Regions from separate parts of the Homo sapiens genome. Here region 2 is linked to region 1. A link means that fine-mapping ties the variant in region 1 to the plasma level of a protein whose gene starts in the linked region. Region 1 holds a variant in brackets. A gene starts in the other region. All regions are shown on their reverse strands.

Region 1 (9,959 bases):
TGCGTGTTCAGCTTAAATACAAGCCCTGTGATATTTGAAAGCATCAGTACCTATGGTGTATTCTGCTGAGAAGTCAAGAATCTCTGAAACATTGTGATTTCTTCTCAGGCAATGTCAGAAAACAAGTTTGTTTTTTTGAATTGGCGAACATAGAACCAAACTTAAGAAAACACTTGGGCTTTGTTCTTTAAAAGTTGCTCTGAATAACAATTATAAGGCAGGAAGTTAAGAAAATATAGCAGCAGAACTCTTGCTTATTGGAATGTTTTTCAAGTTTTTCCATAAGGTGTCGACAGTTCTCTGTCAACTTGAAGGCTGAAAACACAAAAAGCAGTCTTGATTGTCAGGTGCTCTGTGACATCCCTCTCCCACCACTCCCAAGCACTCTGAGCTCCAGTTCAGATGTTTCAGTGTTTTGTAATTTATTCTGTCTCTAAATATCATTTCCCCATTATCTCAGGATTTGCTTTCAGGATGCCTACATTGTGTCATCAATTACCCTGAAAGTACTATAGCACAGATCTTGCTCTATCTTACATTGATAGTATATGGGGTAAAATGGAATTGTTAACAATAATAATGAAACTATTGGTATAGTAAAATATGTCTATATTTTGGCCATACTGTAATCTGAGTATTTGAAATATTTGGAATATCCAGTATTTGGATTTTTTGTTGAGAAGGCTCCTTTGACTGTACAGTAATTTTCTCACTTTTAAATATTTTCTTTTCATGGAATTGTACTAATATATAATTTTGTCGTCTCACTTACTGGCATTACATATGTCTCTTTGAGCTCTTGGGATGATTTAGTCAGTGGTCTTTGACCAAACAGTAAGAAAGAGCACTTTATAATTCTACAAGCGTTCTCAGTGGTCACATAGAAATGTAAGTGAATGTGAGTTTATGCTTCCCTTTCGTTAGCCAACTATCATTCCAAAGTGAGATAAATTATAACTTTCACTGATTTTGAAGGTAAGGATTTGGAAAGGGCACTTGTAAACTATAGATTTGTTGTTTTTCATTTCAAGATCTAAGTAAATGAAAAGAGAAGGACAATATTTTAATAGGCTTTTAATAAAAATGCAGTTTTTAAAAATGGGGTAGTCTCCATATTCTGGGGATTTCTAGACATTTTAAATGAAATGTTACAATGCTGTTAAACATCTAAAATATTTAGTCATTAAAATGTCTTATTTTAAGAATACTGGTTCATTCTTAAGTTGTTTTACGTGGTCTTACGTATTGATTCCTTGAATAAAGGAAAAAAATACCTACATGCTGCTTTCCATTTCCTATATAACAGAGATAAGTGTAATAATTGGAAAAGTCATTAGAACCACTTTGTAGCTCCTTTATTGTACCAAACACTTGTGGAGGGCTAACGAACCATCCAGAAATGAAGAAGGGAATATAATAGCTGAGAGTTCCCATATTCAGAATGCATCTTTCATTTACTTTAACTATTCAGGTCTCATCTTAAAGAATTCCTTATAGGAATCTCTATGGCAATCTGGTGTTTAGACCAGAGAGGAAAGCACATAAGGCCTGGGCGTTTTACCAGTCTTTCTGCTCTTTGTCATATGCTGTTTGGTTATCACCTAGAGGGTACTTCTGTGCCTCAATTTCCCACATTTATCAAAGATGACAATATAGCTCTGTAGTTAATTATAAAAATAATTTAACAAACATTTAATTTTTCTATTTGATTATATGTTCTGTTCCTGAATGTATAAAGACATGCATGTATAGTCATGTATACATTCCTAATATTCATGTATAAATATAAAGCCTAAAGCTTATTCTTTAGAATGGCAGGGCATTAAAATATTCATGCCAGTTTTTCCAATATATCAATTTGTGGGACTAGATTTGGCAAAGCTATCATTTGTAATGACGACTGTAATGCAGATGGATCTTAGTGACTGTATATAGAAACTGGGGGGAAGGGAGTAGCAATCGTTCTTTGTTTTTTAGGATGAAGCAGAAAAATCTGCTCTTTCCTATATATGGAGGAATTTGTTAGAAGCAAGGACTAAAATAAGGAATTACTGATCAGCTAGAAATTATATTTCTCTTATCTTCCTACTTCACTAATATTTTTATCTTCTGAAAATGTATGGGTATTTTTACATTGAGATATTACCGACTTTGGATGAAACCAGTATTTTTCATTTGCAACCAGGAGTATATAACTGGTGTTATCTAAATTCTCTTTAACGAGTCATCAGCACTTTTATTGTAGGCGTCTCAGGCATAAACATCAATAGTGGAATATCCTGTTTCATTCTTAAAGAAATTGGCAATGATTCACATCCATGTGATATAACCTTTCCATGGGATGTGATTCAGAAGGCCAGTGAAGAAGGCACTTTTAAAATCATACTTTTCCTCATTTGAAAAATATCCCCCTAATTAAAATTTACTGCCATAATCCACTGTTATCAGTAGGATTGTATAATGTTCCTCAAATGTGTTGAATTGGAAAAGTTTAAGAATGATTGATTTAGAAATAAGATGATGTCTTCTCAGTATAATCTATAGCCATATTCAAGTAGAAACAACAAATACTCGGAAATGGTAGTGATTAAAGGGTGAGTAGAGAAAAGAAAAGACTAAAATGAGCCCTTTCGCATCTAGTAAGTCACATCTTCATTAATATCAGATCTCTAGAATATTTGCTTAGATTCAAGTTATCAAATTCATATGTGTGTTTTCTCTCGGTGCTTCTCTTGTTCACCAATCAATATTTTATTATCTTTTATTGATTGAAAAGGTGCGTGTGCAGAGTTGTGGTAAGTCAATGCCCATGCAAACCTCACTAAAGCAGCTTTTAGTAGTGAAAATAGTTGATAGTAGACTGTTCTTATTAAAATGAAAAACTTTTGCTACACTATGTAAATGCCAACAATAGACAATTCTAAGACAGCTTATTCAGAGCTTATAATTACAGGGGTAAGGAAAAGCCTATCTTCAAAATGCATCAGTTTTCCCTAAAATCTATGTTTACTCTTAAATTGATGCTGAAAAATATGTAATATCAATCAATATGTTTTTGATTCAGTAACCCTGTGTTGACATATCCTTGATTTTTTTTTAAAGATGAGATTAATGAAAAGACATATCTATACTTTCTCTTAGTATTTCTAAAATATAATAGCAGAGATTATTACCCATTGCTTGTAGCTTTCCTGGGGGATGCAAGTGCTTCCTCCTGCTTTTTGGCCCATTTCTGAGATATCGTTAGAAACTCACTAGTTGGAAGAATGTTGAGGGCTAAAGAGCCTGCCTTTCCTTCATTACACCCAAGACCCTGTTAGTTCTATTAGTAAGGGGGAGAAATAAGAGATGCTTTTATTTTTTCCTGTTATTCATATAAATAGAGGATGTGAATATTTAGAGTGGTTTATTTTAAAATACTAACCCCCAACAATATTTTAAAAGGAAGATTTCCTATACAAAAAAAAAATGTTTAACAATCTGCTCCTAGAAAAGAGGCATATTCTACATATTGTAAACATATATCTACAGTAGTAAATTAAATGATCTCAGAGTTTACAAGCCAGGGTTATGCCTTAATTTGAAGGTCATTGCATTCTCAATATACCACGTTCACAATTCCTTTTCAAGTATTTGCTCTCAGCAAAATGAAAAGCATATTATCTGCCATTTTAATCATTTTGTCAAAGATAAAATAAACTCATCCTCCCCGTGTAGACCTTTGTACCTTGGTAACCAAGTAAATCTGCCTGACACTTGTAGGCAAAGCACCCTATTGGTTTTACTCTGTACACTTTAATAAACACTCAAGGTAAAAATAGAAGCAAGAGATGACGAGTAATAAAGGTAAGAGACATAATCAATTATTATTATTCCTTTGAATGTACGTGTAACAGTGGATGTCACAAATGAAATATTACATCTCTATTTGAAAATTTGTCAATGTGTCCTTTTTTCTTATGCATTTCACTCAAATTATGATAAAATTTTGGCAATTCCTGGAACAATAATTAGGATTATTATTACCATTCTATAATGATAAGCAATTCTAAAATATAAAGAGAGAGAGAGAGACAGAGAACACACACTTGATAATTCTTAAAGCATGTGGTTGTACTGTAACTGTCTGGGCAGTGTCCAACATGTAGAAACATATGCATGAGCCCTTAGTACTGAGTTAATTAAACATATATTTAAATAATTTAGAAAAAGGTCACTCTAAGTTTTGTGAAAACACGATATGTGTATGCCATTTTTGTTTAATGATCTTAGAACCCTCTTTTTGATTGGTACATTCCGAACTATTGTTGAAATACCACTTGTGACAAATTTAAAGATTATTCGAGTAAATGAACATAATATTCTAAACCTTGAATATTTGACTGTGTTTTTGTGTCTCACAGTTACATTTTCTTTGAGCTTGGAGATTCTTCCTAACCTTAGTGGGTTTATATGTAACGACTAATGTAAAGAAAGAAAATAGAAGAGCTTAACTGTTTTGCTGAATGTTTTGACTGTCTCCTGGGCCTTCAGACCACTCAAACTCCATAGAAAGAATATAGTTACTAGAAGTGAACAAGTAAGTAATAATATAGTACAAACAAAAGATTGGGTTTGTAGGTGAAATATCAGTACCAGGAGAATCATTTCTGAAATGTTCTTCTTCTGACTAGCTTCATGAGTGTATTTTTAAACTAGTTTTTCTTAAAACATGACAGTTTACTCTTTCTCATTCTCTCCCTCTCCCCCTGCCCCTCATTATTTACAAAATTCTATATAGAATTTTACATGACATTACATTCAAGTAATGTAAGATTACTTTAAAAACTAGCAAATAGATTTGCTGTTTCTGTGGCAGTTTTTACAAGCACTGTAGGAATTTAGCATTGTGTCCTGAGTTGATTCTGTAATCATGTCTTAGGAGAAACAAATTCTGAGAGTCTATGTAGTCTGGGTAGGTACTTATTATACTTCACAGATTTTCAATTATTTCCAACTAGGGGTTTCTTAACTAAGAGTATATTTTGACAATGAAAAAAAAAATGTACTGCATTTTCCCCTCCCTTAACAGCCAAATTGTGTTTGCCAATGCTTCCACTGGAAACAGAGGGAATCATAGGTAGAACCGTTTAAAAAATATTTTGAATACTCTTGGCTTTCTTAACCACGCAAAAGAAAACTTCTGATTTGGCAAAAGTAGTCTGAGCTGAGAAATACTTTAAGTATTTTACTACCAAGTAAAATATTTGTAGTGTAATTTCAAATACTTTTTTTTTTTTTTTAGCATATCCGTTCTTGTCTGTGTGGACAACTTATGATGTTTATCTTACCTGTGGGGATTGTTTTACCAATTTATGTGTGCTGTGTAAGCTTTTATTTGAGGAGGGTGTCAGAGGGAGGGATATTTTCACAGTTAATTTCTTTACCCAAACTTAATATTAGTTTTTCTTCTTTGTCAATGACAAGATTTTTTTTCTTTCCAAAATGAAGAACTTTTCTTCTTTCAAATATAACAAATTTCATTTTGTTATAAGAATTACGTTGGTGAGACATCTTTCTAGATCTCCCTCTCTCCCATTTATTAGGAAGTAATTACATAAGAAAATAGTAGTTTCTAAGGTGTATGTGGGACTTAGCCCTTAACTATTAGCACACGTATATATTATAGCCAAATAATTAACAAAATATAATTATGTAAATATATGAAATAAAGTCCTGGTTTAACATAATGATACTTCCAATAATTTGTTGAAGCTAAGAATGAGGGCTCTGAGGTCACGCTGCCATCTGACAACTTTGATGTTTCCCCTGACTAGCTATGACTGTGGGCAAGTTAGTTGACCTCTGTAAAGTGGGCACAAAGTTGTATCCAACTCATAGAGCCATGGTGAGAATGAACTGAGATAGTGTATCTGGGGCACATATAGCAGAGTCCCTGGCATGAGCCCACATTACATTGTGTAGTTTTCAGATGGCCCAAAGGTATTCCATTGAGGGGATGAATTCAGGGTGAACAGGCTGAAAGGCATCTGTTGCCCCTCTTCCTGGCCATGCTCTTGCTTGCTGGGCAAGGTCAGGCAAAAGAAAGTATCTTTTTAATTTGAACAGAGGAATCCAGTAGGATAGTGGTGGCTGTATACGTCAGC[C/TGGTTTTATTATC]ATGCTAAGAACATGCGCCCTCTTTTTTCAGGTAGTCCTTGTGGTTTTGAAGTCAGCCTGTGTCTCACATAATCATTGTGAGAGTATGATGTTAACAACACTTCTTCCACAAGGTAGTTAGAAAGTGAAAAAGGCAGATAGCCAAGTGATTTATATAAATATAATCACTTAAAGGTTTCTGTTAGCATCATTGTTATTATATAAAGCTTATCAATTAGTAAAAAGATAACTATAGTTAAGATGTATCATTTGTAGTATTAATGTAAAACATGTAGTGATAGGTTAGGGCTATGCATAACAGAACAACTATTAAAAGGCAGTTTATGCCTTTTGGGTTTACACTGGAGTTCTAGAATAAAATGGGAGGGAGAAGATGATTAGAAACTGCATGAGGAGCACCACTTTTGAAACTAATGCTGACAGCTGATAACAAGAGCAAAGTTATTGTAACTGGTAGTGGACGTTTGAATTGTTGAAATGTGCCATGTTCATATTTTACTTCCAATATTTTCCCTTGACATAATGGATTCTGAAATGAAATGTATAGAGGACTATTTTTAAACTAAGATTTCATTTTAAAGAATATCACACATAAGGGATTTAATTAAAGGATAATGAAGGAGCAAAATAAAGAATCAGGAATCTTAGGTTTTGGAGAGATACTCAAGATATGAAATCTATTTTGAAGCTAACACTGGAGATAAAAGTCAGGAGCTCTCCCATGTTTTTCTGTGATATTAAGGAAATTAAGTCAGAATCCCATCTCTACAGTAGACTGTTTCACTTAACCATTTTACTGACTCCACTTCACCCTTCTGCTTCCTGAATCTAGACACAAACTGAATTTATCCCCTTGGACTGCTCTTCTTTCTCCACTGCCTCTGATCAAATATCACCTGGATATTTTAGATTGGCAGTTTCACATAGTTCAACCTTATAGATACATCCAGACTAATGTAAACCTGTTCAGATCATGTTGACTTACTTCCTCTTTTGCCCACCATATCTGTGGTTTCCAAATCATACAGATTTTTTATCTCCTCAGTGCCTTTCCTCCTTTCCTCTTGCACTGCAGAAACACCAGACTCTCATTCCTTCTCCGGTGAGATCCTGAAGAAGCCTTGGAATTTGTTTTTCTAGTTCTCTATCTCGTCCCACACGAGTCAGCTGTACTTAAGGGTAGCACTTAAGGACCAGCAAGTACTCTATGGCTCCAGCCTAGATTTCCAGACCTATTTTGCCCTAATTCCATATAAATAGCCTCATTAGAAATAAAGTGGGCCACTAATTATTCCTCATTATGATCCAGACATATTACTGTTTCCTTGTGTTTTTACATTTTATTCCTTCTTGCTTCTCCTCTACTCTTTCCCAAACCCCAGCTATAGCTATATTCTAAGTTTTTCACCTTTCAATCCTAATAAATTTAGCACGATGCTTTTCAGATGGCTACTCAATAACTGTGGTAAGTTACACTCAGGATGCCTCCCATAGTTCTGGGGAAGTTCCCCTTTTGACTTCTAAACTGAGAAAAAAACGTTATACCTATTTCTGCACCTACAGTGCTTCACAGTGAGTGATTACAAATGTTTAATTGTATGTTTTCCCAGCCGATTATAAACTGCATTAAGGCATCTACAATGTGTATTGTACTGTAGCATGGCTTGGTACAATGCCTGGCAGATAGCATATGCTTAGAAAATACTGTAGAATAAATGTTGCAGAAAGTTGGTGCTCAGTACATGTTTTAAATCTTGTATGTGTGATTATATATATTTGGTCTTTGTAATTCACGGCATAATAACTGATGAAATAGTCACTATTACAATTTTTTCATGTGTTCAGGGAAGGAGGTCCTTTAATTTGCTTACTAAGGCTTAATCTTATGGTGAAGAGGAGAAATAAAAATTGTATTGTATAACAAATTGAATACACTTGAAAAATTATCAGCCGTTTGATTAGGGAATGCATTTTTAGTTTTCATAACACATGAAAATCTATATGCTGTCAAGGAAAGGTTATTCTAACATTTAAGGAATTACACAAATTCTGTTCTTTAACATGACAGAATAATAGAAAGAGTCCTCTTTGTAATGTTAGGGCAGCTAAGCGTGACCAACATAACTGAGAAGTTTGTTGCCATTATTATCGTTAAATCTATCATTATATCTTTGTGTAATTAAATCTTTATAAAAGCAAATGAGATGAGGTATACTTCTAATAATTAGTGGTTTAGAATAAATGAAGAATTTATAAAGTATATTAATAGTAAGAGGACACCTGACTAAAATCTCAACAGCAAAGATAACTATGACCTGAATTAAAGAGAAGAAAAAACTAAGAAAAAAAAAGATCAAACAGTATTAATATTTCTGCATTTCAGGTGAGTTATCTACATTTTGCTGGTATTTTTCTTCTCATTATCTGTAGAAATCCATAGAAACAAGTCTCTGTGCAGCTCCAAATGCCCCCAATTCCATTTTATATGGTATTTCCAATAAGGGCACCGTTTCTTGCAAAGAATATTACATCTCACTAATTGTCCTACAAATCCCATTCTTAATTAAAATCAAAATCTTAATTGTAACAACTTTACTATATAGCTTGCAAATATGTGTTCTTTCTTGTTTGTTTGGAGGATGAGGCTCTGGATACATCTTTTTTTTTTTTTTTTTTTTTTTTTTTTTTCTTTTCGAAAGGAGCAGCCCTGGTGAGAGAAATTTACAGCAATTGATTTTGTTTGTTTGTGGCTGCAGCCATAAAAACTCCCAGGCAAAACTAAATAGTGCTTGTGGGGCACAGACATGGTGGTTCACAGGGAAACAGTGAGTTTTATAATACTGATAACACTAAACAATAAGACAAGGTATAATAGTTCCAGTCCCATCATTTGTCTCTGCTTTGTCCTGAGTTGTACGCTCCGTCATGCATATGCTGGCTATAATGTGACATATTTAATTCTGCATTTAGTCTCTGCTTTGTTACACATGCTCGAAAATAGCAAGTCAGCTTCTCAAATGCCATGCATCAGCCCTCTAACAACAACAACAACAAAATTAAATACAAAGTAAGTTTGAATAACAGTAACGGTGGGAAAATCTATCCCAGGGTTCATTCTTTTTACAGGGAGTTGGCAAACCAGGAAGAATAGATTTTGTCATGTGCAAATATGGTGACCATAAATGGTGCTGGAGGCTTTTTCCATTGTCCTCTGAGTTTGCCATGAGAGAAAGCGGGTGAGAGAAAGAAAGACACGTTTGATAGAGTTGTGAAGAACGTTTGAATGGCTATTGGGTGTTGAGCATTGTCTTGCAGTGACCTCAATTCGGTACAGTAGAGACCCTTGAAAGCACTGTCTGAAGTCACAATACCACTATTCTCCTCCATTTAGTAAAAGGGATTAGTTAAAAGGGTGACGTTCCGTGCAGAGAGTTCCAAGTATTCCATGAAACAAAAGGCTCTGAAATGTTTTTGAAGTTATTTTTAATTGAGTTGAACTAATTTAATAAAGGTCCTACGGAGGAAAAAAAATAAAGGAATGTGATTGTTTTATGATTCCTCACAGATGGAATGGACATTTATAGCATACTTTTCCTTTAGTGTTCCAGAGAACAGTAGCTCCATTTACAGCTACTGTTAGCAATTTAAAACTGCTCCAAAATGAAGTCTTTCAAGAAGTTGACAGCTTATAAATAAATCTGTCTGATAAAATTGAACATAAACTGCATCTGTGGTTAGTTTGCCAAAATTAATTCTACATTTAATTAGAGATAGCAGTCAAACATATTTAATAAAAAACAGTCTTGGAGAGTA
Region 2 (9,959 bases), not on the chromosome of region 1:
GCATTCCATGGACCAGCTGGGGCCTTGGAAGACAATGCAAACACTAGAAACTAGTCATGTCAGGCAATCCAAATTTCATAACCTTGGGCCAAATCTTAAAATTCTATTAAGTTGATCATTCAAAATGTCTACATTATCAGGTCAATTTGTTGTGATAATACTGAGTCACACCCTCTCAACATCCTGAGTGAATTAAAAAAACTAAATATAACACAGAGATACTTTTTTCTTTCTTTCTGGACCTCAATCCAAATAAAGAAAATATCACCTGCAGAAGATTCTAAAAAGTGAACAAGCAAATCAGGAAGATTATACTAGAAAAGCTATTTGTTGTTGTTTTTGACCAGTCTTTAGGGTAGTTTTATAACTCTCACAAAGCAGATATTGTTTTGGTACTATTTATATTTCAACCACTAATCAGGAAAATAATGCTAAATGTGCCAAGACTCAGGTCTTAGACGTACGTGTTCATTGAATTGATTTCTTTGCCAGAGCTAAAATTTAATAGGTTGCCAGGAGAGCCAAATCAATGGTGTATTATCTTTTAAAATCCCTTCTATCTCAACTTTTCACTTTTCATATAGAAATCCATGCTCTTCCTTACTGACTCTGTATACAAAAATTATTCTGGTCAGAATACTAAAAATTCCAATTTGCTAGCCTTTGTTATTTGAACCAGGCTGACACTTCTGCAATTTGGCTTGACTTGCATTTATTCTAGTGTATTATCCAGTATCAACATTACACAGAAAACTAATTTAAATAATAATGCTTGGTCAGAGATGGAGCAACAATATAGAATAAGATGATTTGGTTTAAACAGTCTCAGAAGGAATCTTATTGATATAGCATACAGCTTGTACCCAAATTCTGGGAGAAGGAAGTAAAATGTATCTTTATATCACATTTATTTTGGTATATCTTTATATCACATTTATTTTGGTATTATAAAGATACAATAAAATGTATCTTTATATCACATTTATTTTGGATAATTGTTAAAAAGTTCAGCTTACTATGATTTTTGGAAGATTTACAATTAATGTGCTTGCTAGGGAAAATACACAATTTGAGAAGTCATGAGAGGCTGAAGCCTGAGATGGTCTGATCTCCTGCTACATTGCTATTGGCTGAGGGCCAACTAAGTATCCAAATTATCTTTGCTTCAAAAAGGATGTTGATCAAAAGGTAGGGGTGCATTTCACAAGCATTTATTTCTATAAAGAATTATGAAAGGTTGAGAATGTTTGGTTATGCTTGTGTTAATTCATCTTCAGTTTCACCCTTTTGCATTCAAGTTTCTTTACAAACAACAACAACAACAACAACAAACCGAATCCAACAAAACCCAAAGGACTTGGCTATGCAATTAGTGTGCTGGTCCAAGTATGGTTCAAACATATTTTATGTAGCCCAATGTCTACATTTTTGTCTGGAATAAATAAAAGACTATTTTGATTATTGTTGTTTTATTTTAAATTTTAAGTACTTTAATTTTGATATTTGATTTTTAAGGTAGACATAACCATATTGATATTATATTCCAAGCAGTGCCATTTCCCACCCGTTAATGATAATTTGGCTCTTATATATGGCAAAAGAGAGAGGTGATTAATGAAGGTGATCAATGGAGGCTTCCAAACTAACAATTAATAATTCAGTGACAGAAAGGCTGCAACCACAAACTATTTGGAAAACAGACAAATTTTGAATTTCAGAAAATAATAATCTATTGGTGGTATGTTACAGTTTCTTTCAGAAAAAATGACCCTTTTGAATTATCTGAGGCAAAAAAGAAAGAAAATTATTTGATAAGTGAATTGTGTGCTGGGTAAAGCTTCTGTTCAACGATGTATCTTAAAACTTGAAATAGTAATTTCTCTCATTCTGTGATGTGTGTTATTTCAGCACACCAAACACCAAATGAAGTGTAATAGATTTTATAAAAATGCCAAGGCAGGTAATAATTTACATGTTCTTTTTTTATTAAAAAAATCAATAGTATGTATTATAAACCTTGTGAAATGCTGACACAGGAAAAAAAATCCATGTTCAAATCAGTTTTCTTTGTACAGATAAATGGCCTCAGATGTAAACCAGACAATGATTAGCTAATTCCTTTTCTGATCTATATTTCTAAAGTAGAATCTACACAAATGAATGAGATGTGACTATTTCCATTTAAAATTTATAGTTACAGCTGAGCTAAGCTTTGGAAAAATATTTGAAGATGTGTGTTTTTCTTTTTGCAGGGAATGCATTCTAAATTTTCTTATAAACCTATTACTTTACACTTTTATTTACCAAGCATATTCTTTTTCAAGGATTATGTGTTTTTGACAGCATTTAAATTTCACTAAAAACAAAGTTGAACTACCAAGAGCAACAGTAATAAATATTTTATACTTTATGTAGTCTTTTCATATCTACCTAATCCACATAACAACTTGGGTGAGCAGAGCTGAGAGTAGGTATTAGTATCCTTATTATACAGATGAGAAAATTGTGTTTCCAAAAATATAAATAATTGATATTTTTGGAAACACAATTTTATAAATAATTGATATTGACCTGGGCTCCAATAGAGTAGCTGGAGCTCTTTGGTTTTATTCATGGTCCGAATAAGTTAGAGAACCAGAACTTGGCAACCATCCAAGTAGGTAGGCATCATTGTTCAGGTTAAGGAAGGGACCACTCATGAATGAGATACCACCACAGACAAACACAGGTAGCTCCTCCTTCAGGCCTTTCCCCAGCCACTCTCCAAGCATGGTACCTGAGTTCTATAGCCCACCACTTTAAGAATGATGCCCAACTCTGGGCCAAGCATGTGTGAATTACAATGGAGCTTCTAAGGGAGCAGGTAAAGGGATTTTTCCCTGTTTAGCTTTGATTCCTTTCTGTGTAGTGATAGAGATTAGTGACACATTTATGTGGTCTAGAGTAAAAAGGATAGAAACATATCTTACATGTGTAACTTAAACTCTAAGCTAATGAGATGAGAAGGGAAGCTATATCACTGTTTCATTTTGGCAACTTATTTTTCCTGTTTCATTATTAATCCAGATTTCCCTCTTCTAAATTTTTTTTAAAGAAACAAGATACTACAGTTAGAGTAGAAGCTTCCTTCCATCCCATGACCATTCTTCTATTTCCTGAGGTGACTAATATTCTGAAGTTGATCTGTATTTATTCCATTCACATATTTTATATGATACACCATGTATGATTATCAAATTGTTTTATGTGCATTTTAAGAGCTACACAAATGGTAGCATTATATAGTTAACACATCAAGTTCTACGTTTTTCCCTTACATTTATGTTTCTGAGATTCAGTCTTGGTGATACACATAAGCCTAGTTTGTCCTTTTTATGAGTATACAAGAAAATATAAATTCAGTGAGAGCAGAACTTTATTTTATTCACTGCTCTGACCTAAGTAACTTGAGCAGAATATTTCTTTAATGAAGTAGTGAATTTGAGAGAATGAGTTAGTGTATATAAATGAATGAATTAATGTACAAATGAATGTGTGCTATTAGCTTATATTTTTTCCTATTTCTGGCTTTGTCTGATTTTGACATTAAGGTTATTCTGCCTTCACAAAATGAACTGAGTAGCTTTAAAACATTTTGTATAAATGTATATTTATTCCGCAGGATATGCTAAGGTCTAGCACTTTCCTCTGGGTAGATCTTGATGAATGATTTGATTTCTTTAATGTTATAGTTCGATTACAGTTTCTGAAAATTTTCTTCTTGAACTATTTTTGGTAGTTTATGTTTTTCTATACAATTATTCCTGTTGTCTCCATTTTTAGATTTAATGGTGTATTAGTTTACTATTGCTACTGCAACAAATAACCATAAATTTTGTGGCTTAAAACAACACACATTCATTATCTTACAGTTATGGAGGTCAGAAGTCTCAAATGGGCTAGTAGATCCTTTTTTATGCCCATTCTAGCTTCCAGAGATTGCCCACATCACTTGGCTTGTGTTTGTTTTTACTCTGACCCTCCTGCCTCTCATTTGTAAGGGCTCTTGTGATTATAGTGTACCCACCTGGATAATCACGATACTCTCCCCATCTCAAGAGTCTTAGCTGAATTGCATTGGCAAAATCCCTTTTGCTCTGTAAGGTAACATACTCACAGGTATTAGGAATTAGGATTCGGACATTTTTTTGGGGGGGCATTATTCTATTTACCACAATTGGTATCATATGTTCCATTGTGTTTTCTCCTGCCTCTCTAGATGTGTTGCTTTAAAAAAATTCAGGCCGGGTGTGATGGCTCACGCCTGTAATGCCAGCGCTTTGGGAGGCCGAGGCGGGCGGATCACGAGGTCAGGAGCTCAAGACCAGCCTGGCCAACATAGTGAAACCCCGTCTCTGCTAAAAATACAAAAAAAATTAGCCGGGCATGGTGGCGGGTGCCTGTAGTCTCAGCTACTTGGGAGGCTGAGGCAGGAGAATCGCTTGAACCCGGGGAGGCGGAGGTTGCAGTGAGTCGAGATCGCACCACTGCACTCCAGCCTGGGCGACACAGCAAGACTCTGTTTAAAAAAAAAATTCAGAATGTGTTTATTTCTTCCTCTATCATTTTCTCTTCATTAATTTGTCTATTTTATTAGCTATGCCCTGACAGTTTTGACAGGGTTGTGGGATATAGTAGAAAGGTTGGAAAGGCATGGACAGCCGTGCTGGGAGTGCTGTTCGAGTAATTTTCTGCCTCCAGTCATTTCCCACTACTTCATCAAATACAACTACCTCACTATGCTCTGGGTGGTACGAAGTAACCCATGGTAGGATGCTTCCCAACTCAGTGTTAAAGGTAATGGTGCATCCTGAGCTTTCTCGCTCTGCATCTCAATCCTGGAACTGGTAATTCTCTATGACTGACACCTCTGAGCTCCCATTCTCTCCTATCTCTAGGGAATACCTGAGGAGGTGAGGTTTCACCTTCTTACTCCCCGCGGCCCAACCCCCGTCCGCCCCTCCCCCGCCCCGCCCCTCGCCCCCCAGAGCTGAGACCTGGGCATGCGCATCAGCCGCAACAGATTGGAGGGGACCCTGCTGCTCACTCCCCTGCTACCCTCCTCTCTTCCCTCCCCCGACCGCTCTCATATTCCCGTTCCCACCCCCACCCCCCACTCCCGCCCCGCACCCGCCCCTAGCCCGGGCTCGGGGACCTGTCAGGCTGGTTTCGACAGCTGGGGAATTAACCTGTCCCGCCCATCCCTAGCCTCGAGCCGCGCAGGCTCCGCGCCTCCGCCCTTGTTCCCTCCCAGCTCCTCCGAGTGGAAGCCGCTACAAATGGCTTGAATGAAACGTGTGTGGGTTTAGTGAGTGGTGAACCACCAGGGGATCCCGTCTCCCCACAAACCAGTATCTCTCCGAGGAGGAGGCGAAGGAGTGGGAGGAGGCAACGAGCCGAGAGTCGAGCTTCGCGGGCGCGCGCAGCGGCTGGAGCGCGGGGGCGAGGCCGGGCCACCTCCCCTTCCCGGCCGCGCACTGCCTGGCCCGCGGCGGTTCCAGGCACCACCCTTCCCGTCCGGGCTGAGCCCGCTGTGGCAGTGACTAGCTCCCGCGGCTAGCGGCACTGTCCACCGACGAGCGGCGCCCTCTTCTCCCCCTTCTCCCCACGATTTCCTTCTCTGCGGCGGCACGCCGTCCAGCAGCCTGCTTCGCCCCGTCGTCAACTTTGAGCTGGAGGAGAAGCAACTTTGGCAGTGGCCGCGGGGTTGGAATCCCGCTTCTCCTCGGCAGCAGTAGGCTCGCAAGTCGCTGGGGTTAGGTGGGGCAAGAGTTTCGCCGGCGCATCAGCGCTGCTTCGGACTGTTTGCAACGTGTTTCCAGCGAGCTGGGAGCGGGGTTGTGACTGCGAGTCGTCTGGGGGAGGGGGACTTGTTTTTCTTTTCCTCTAGAGACCTCGGCTTGCAACTGGATCAAACGCTGTCGAAAGGATGTAAATAGGCAGAGCAACTGTTACCAAGAAGGCCACCACCCCCACCCAAAGGCAGTGAGGAGTGTGGGGCTTCGTCTGGGCTCCCCCGAGTCTCAACAGTAATCAACAGTCAGGTGTTGATTGCAACTTTTCAAGGTCAGCCACCGGGAGTAGCCTATTCCCTCTAGGAACCTTGGAGGGCATACCTTGCTGGGACTCAACTTGGCTGAGAAATGCACAAGATGCCAAAGGAGGAAGGATTATAGGGGGCGTGTGTGTGACCCCCAAGACCGATCTTCCGCTATCACCCTAATCTCCGGTTCCCCGCTACCCGGGCGGGGGTGAGTATGTGACATGTGCCTAACTCTCAGCAGCAACTTCGGCAGCAGGTGTCGATCCTAACTAAGCAGGAGCTGCGGCTGCCGGGTGTGCCCTCACCAAGCCATGCGAGCCCCGGGCGCGCTTCTCGCCCGCATGTCGCGGCTACTGCTTCTGCTACTGCTCAAGGTGTCTGCCTCTTCTGCCCTCGGGGTCGCCCCTGCGTCCAGAAACGAAACTTGTCTGGGGGAGAGCTGTGCACCTACAGTGATCCAGCGCCGCGGCAGGGACGCCTGGGGACCGGGAAATTCTGCAAGAGACGTTCTGCGAGCCCGAGCACCCAGGGAGGAGCAGGGGGCAGCGTTTCTTGCGGGACCCTCCTGGGACCTGCCGGCGGCCCCGGGCCGTGACCCGGCTGCAGGCAGAGGGGCGGAGGCGTCGGCAGCCGGACCCCCGGGACCTCCAACCAGGCCACCTGGCCCCTGGAGGTGGAAAGGTGCTCGGGGTCAGGAGCCTTCTGAAACTTTGGGGAGAGGGAACCCCACGGCCCTCCAGCTCTTCCTTCAGATCTCAGAGGAGGAAGAGAAGGGTCCCAGAGGCGCTGGCATTTCCGGGCGTAGCCAGGAGCAGAGTGTGAAGACAGTCCCCGGAGCCAGCGATCTTTTTTACTGGCCAAGGAGAGCCGGGAAACTCCAGGGTTCCCACCACAAGCCCCTGTCCAAGACGGCCAATGGACTGGCGGGGCACGAAGGGTGGACAATTGCACTCCCGGGCCGGGCGCTGGCCCAGAATGGATCCTTGGGTGAAGGAATCCATGAGCCTGGGGGTCCCCGCCGGGGAAACAGCACGAACCGGCGTGTGAGACTGAAGAACCCCTTCTACCCGCTGACCCAGGAGTCCTATGGAGCCTACGCGGTCATGTGTCTGTCCGTGGTGATCTTCGGGACCGGCATCATTGGCAACCTGGCGGTGATGTGCATCGTGTGCCACAACTACTACATGCGGAGCATCTCCAACTCCCTCTTGGCCAACCTGGCCTTCTGGGACTTTCTCATCATCTTCTTCTGCCTTCCGCTGGTCATCTTCCACGAGCTGACCAAGAAGTGGCTGCTGGAGGACTTCTCCTGCAAGATCGTGCCCTATATAGAGGTAATGCCTTCCAGGGGCTCTCAAGCTAGTGGCTTTATCTGTTTTCGGGATTATAGCATCAGAGAACTGCTGCTGGATGCACCTATCTAGCTGAACGCCTTTCCTTTTTATCTGGGGCCCTCTTTCATTTCTCTTTCCAATCATTTATGCATGTATGTATATACAAAAAGAGGCAGCTTCGCGAAATCACCTTCAAATTCATCTGCTCCTGGGCTGTAAAAAAAGGATGATCTCACAATATACAGAATTGTTTGGAGTATAAATCTATCTCCCTGAATATGGTGTTATGCGTATTTCTGATTTGGCACTTGTCAGAGATTTTAGGGTTAAGTAAATGGCCAGCCTAAGGTTGTCATCATCAGAGCCTACAAGGAAAAAAAAAAAAACATTAGCATTTGTGTACTAGTTACCAAGTGCTTCAATGTGAGTTTTCCCCCAAGAAGATTATTGCATTTTTTCTTAAACAGCAAAGTTGGAGTAACATTTTATTGAAAGAAAGAAAGAAAGAAAATTGTGTTTGTCAGTTGGCCTCATGATATATTAATAACCTCTCAAATTAGTTTAAGTGTCTGACTGTCTTCCATGCTATCCCATCTAAATTCTTAAGTCATTTTTTGTTCCTGTCTTTTCCCATCTCGGTTTCTTAATTTTATTTTTGTGTGTTTGCGTGAACTTAAGCAAAAATAAGACTTTGGCCAGCGTGGCACATAATTTGTTTAACATTCTCAAAGTTATACATTTGTTATTTGTTATGGGTGGAAAGATTGGCTATTTTAAGGGATTGACCCTAAGACTAGAAAATTTCTTGGGAAGAAGGGGGCACATCTAGTTTCCAAACTTTGGAAACAAAAATCATTTTGAGTGAAATTGCATTGTTTCATCCTACAGCTAGTGTCCTGGCCCACTATTGTGGTAGGTGGACTTTGCTCTTTAAATGGCCTCTCTTTAAACACCAGCTCTTGGAAGGGGCCCAACTGTTTTGCTGCCAGTTGTGTTTTTAGCCAGCTGGCCCTTGATTTTCTCCATTCAGACTGTCCATTTCATTTATGGAAGCAGAAGAAGGGAAACTGTAAATATTCCGCAGCCCCTGATCCTGTCTGGCACCAGGGCCTGTGACACTATGTTCAACATTGTTCCAGGCCTAAAGCTGGGGGATAAGTAAACAGAAAACAGTACCTACTTAGACGGACCAAAGCTGGAGACAGTAAATAAGACCCTCTGTTATCTTGACAGGGATCAGGTGCAGGATCATTCCATGACTATGAAATCAGCTGTTGCTGCTTTAGCAGCGTCCATGATTTCTCCTGTTGCCAAGCTTGGCGTATCTCTGAAACATCTACTTTGTTTGGTAGACAATTCATTTTTGAATTGTGAAGGAGCCAGTTGAACTCATGTTAGAGAATATGTGTCTATTTACCAAACTGCCTCTTCAAGGTCAGTTTCAAATTTCTTTTTTTCTTTTTTTTTTTTTATCAGAAGAAATTGACTTATGCAAGAAAGAGACAAAAGTATAAAGCGGACAAGAGAGGTACCTCAATGACAGAGAAGTGTATTGGCTTATCTCACTGGAAATGTACTGGACATGTAGAAATCTGTATACACTAGAGGGAAAAACAATAGGACAGAAAAAGGAAATTGGGGAAAGAAAAATAAAAACACCAAAGTTCTTGAAAGAACACCTTAAAAGAAAAGAATATCAAATTCAGGAAAGATTATAAAAACTTTGGTTAATTTAATGAGATATAAGCATTTTGAGCAATGGCATTTATTATGTACTTATTTTAATTTTCTTTTTCCGTAATTCTGAGTTTGTACAAATGTAATACTTTCTTTCATTTGTATTTCACTTTTTAATTTAATCAGCTCCTCCTTAAGAGTGCTTTGTTTTTTGCCTCTTATTATTAGTAAAATCTTTTACTTTCTGTATTTTTGCTTAACTTTTCCCCATCCTAGTAGCTTTCTCTATTTTTCAGTTATTAGTGCTAGCATTTATTTTTCTTAGAGAATCAAAGGCTTAAAAAATTCACTCATTTATTTTTTAAAATTACAGTATAATATACATTTTTACTGTTAAAATAGTGAATGAACATCTTAATATGTAGCATTTCTATATTTCTACCTAATCCTTATTACTCTGAAATAATTTTAGAATGGTTTATAAAAATAATTATTGGACAATATTGCTGGCTTCATAATTCCTGATTACTGAGAACAAGAACTACAGTCCAAATCTCAAAATAAAAGTGTGTCTCCAGGAGGCACTGATGTTTTCACAAAAGTAAGAGGTATTTAGGGTTTCTCCTACGTTGGGTTCCTGCAAAAACAGGCCCTGAGATGTAGATTTATTGGGGCATCAAGTTTATTGGGTTGTGCTCTCAGGTTCAACCTATTAAGGAAAGAAGAAAGCAGGATTGGGCGGGCAAAGGGAGAAGTTGAACTGTGATGCAATTGCCACAGAGACCTCAGCTGACACCATTAGGAGCTTTAGGGCTGGGATGGCCATGCAGCCATATCCCAAATTGAGGCAAGAGGGCTCAGCCTTT

Direction of the effects. Positions count from the first base shown, and alleles are read on the strand shown. Strength reflects both the effect of a copy and how common the allele is.
For the plasma level of the protein whose gene starts at base 5,578 in region 2, TGGTTTTATTATC is the low allele of the variant in region 1 and C is the other (weak association).

What was found. PIP is the posterior inclusion probability: the model's chance that the variant is causal. Protein levels are from antibody-based Olink assays in UK Biobank. Linkage for the fine-mapping came from a reference panel and not from the study's own genotypes, which makes the PIPs less certain.
Region 2: it holds the start of GPR37, and the variant in region 1 is fine-mapped to the plasma level of the GPR37 protein (UK Biobank, PIP above 0.99).

What each region holds. Positions count from the first base shown.
Region 1 is chr12:24,081,280-24,091,238 of GRCh38, reverse strand. It overlaps a transcript of SOX5 not described here. Among named protein-coding and RNA genes, the nearest start is that of MIR920, 130 kb to the left of the region's middle. RefSeq lists an enhancer at 8,539-9,959. The variant C/TGGTTTTATTATC (reference allele first, on the strand shown) is at 6,147.
Region 2 is chr7:124,761,411-124,771,369 of GRCh38, reverse strand. GPR37 (G protein-coupled receptor 37) reads left to right here and starts at 5,578. Exons shown (of 2, transcript NM_005302.5): 1 at 5,578-7,416. The coding sequence starts at 6,394. RefSeq lists a silencer at 5,437-5,566.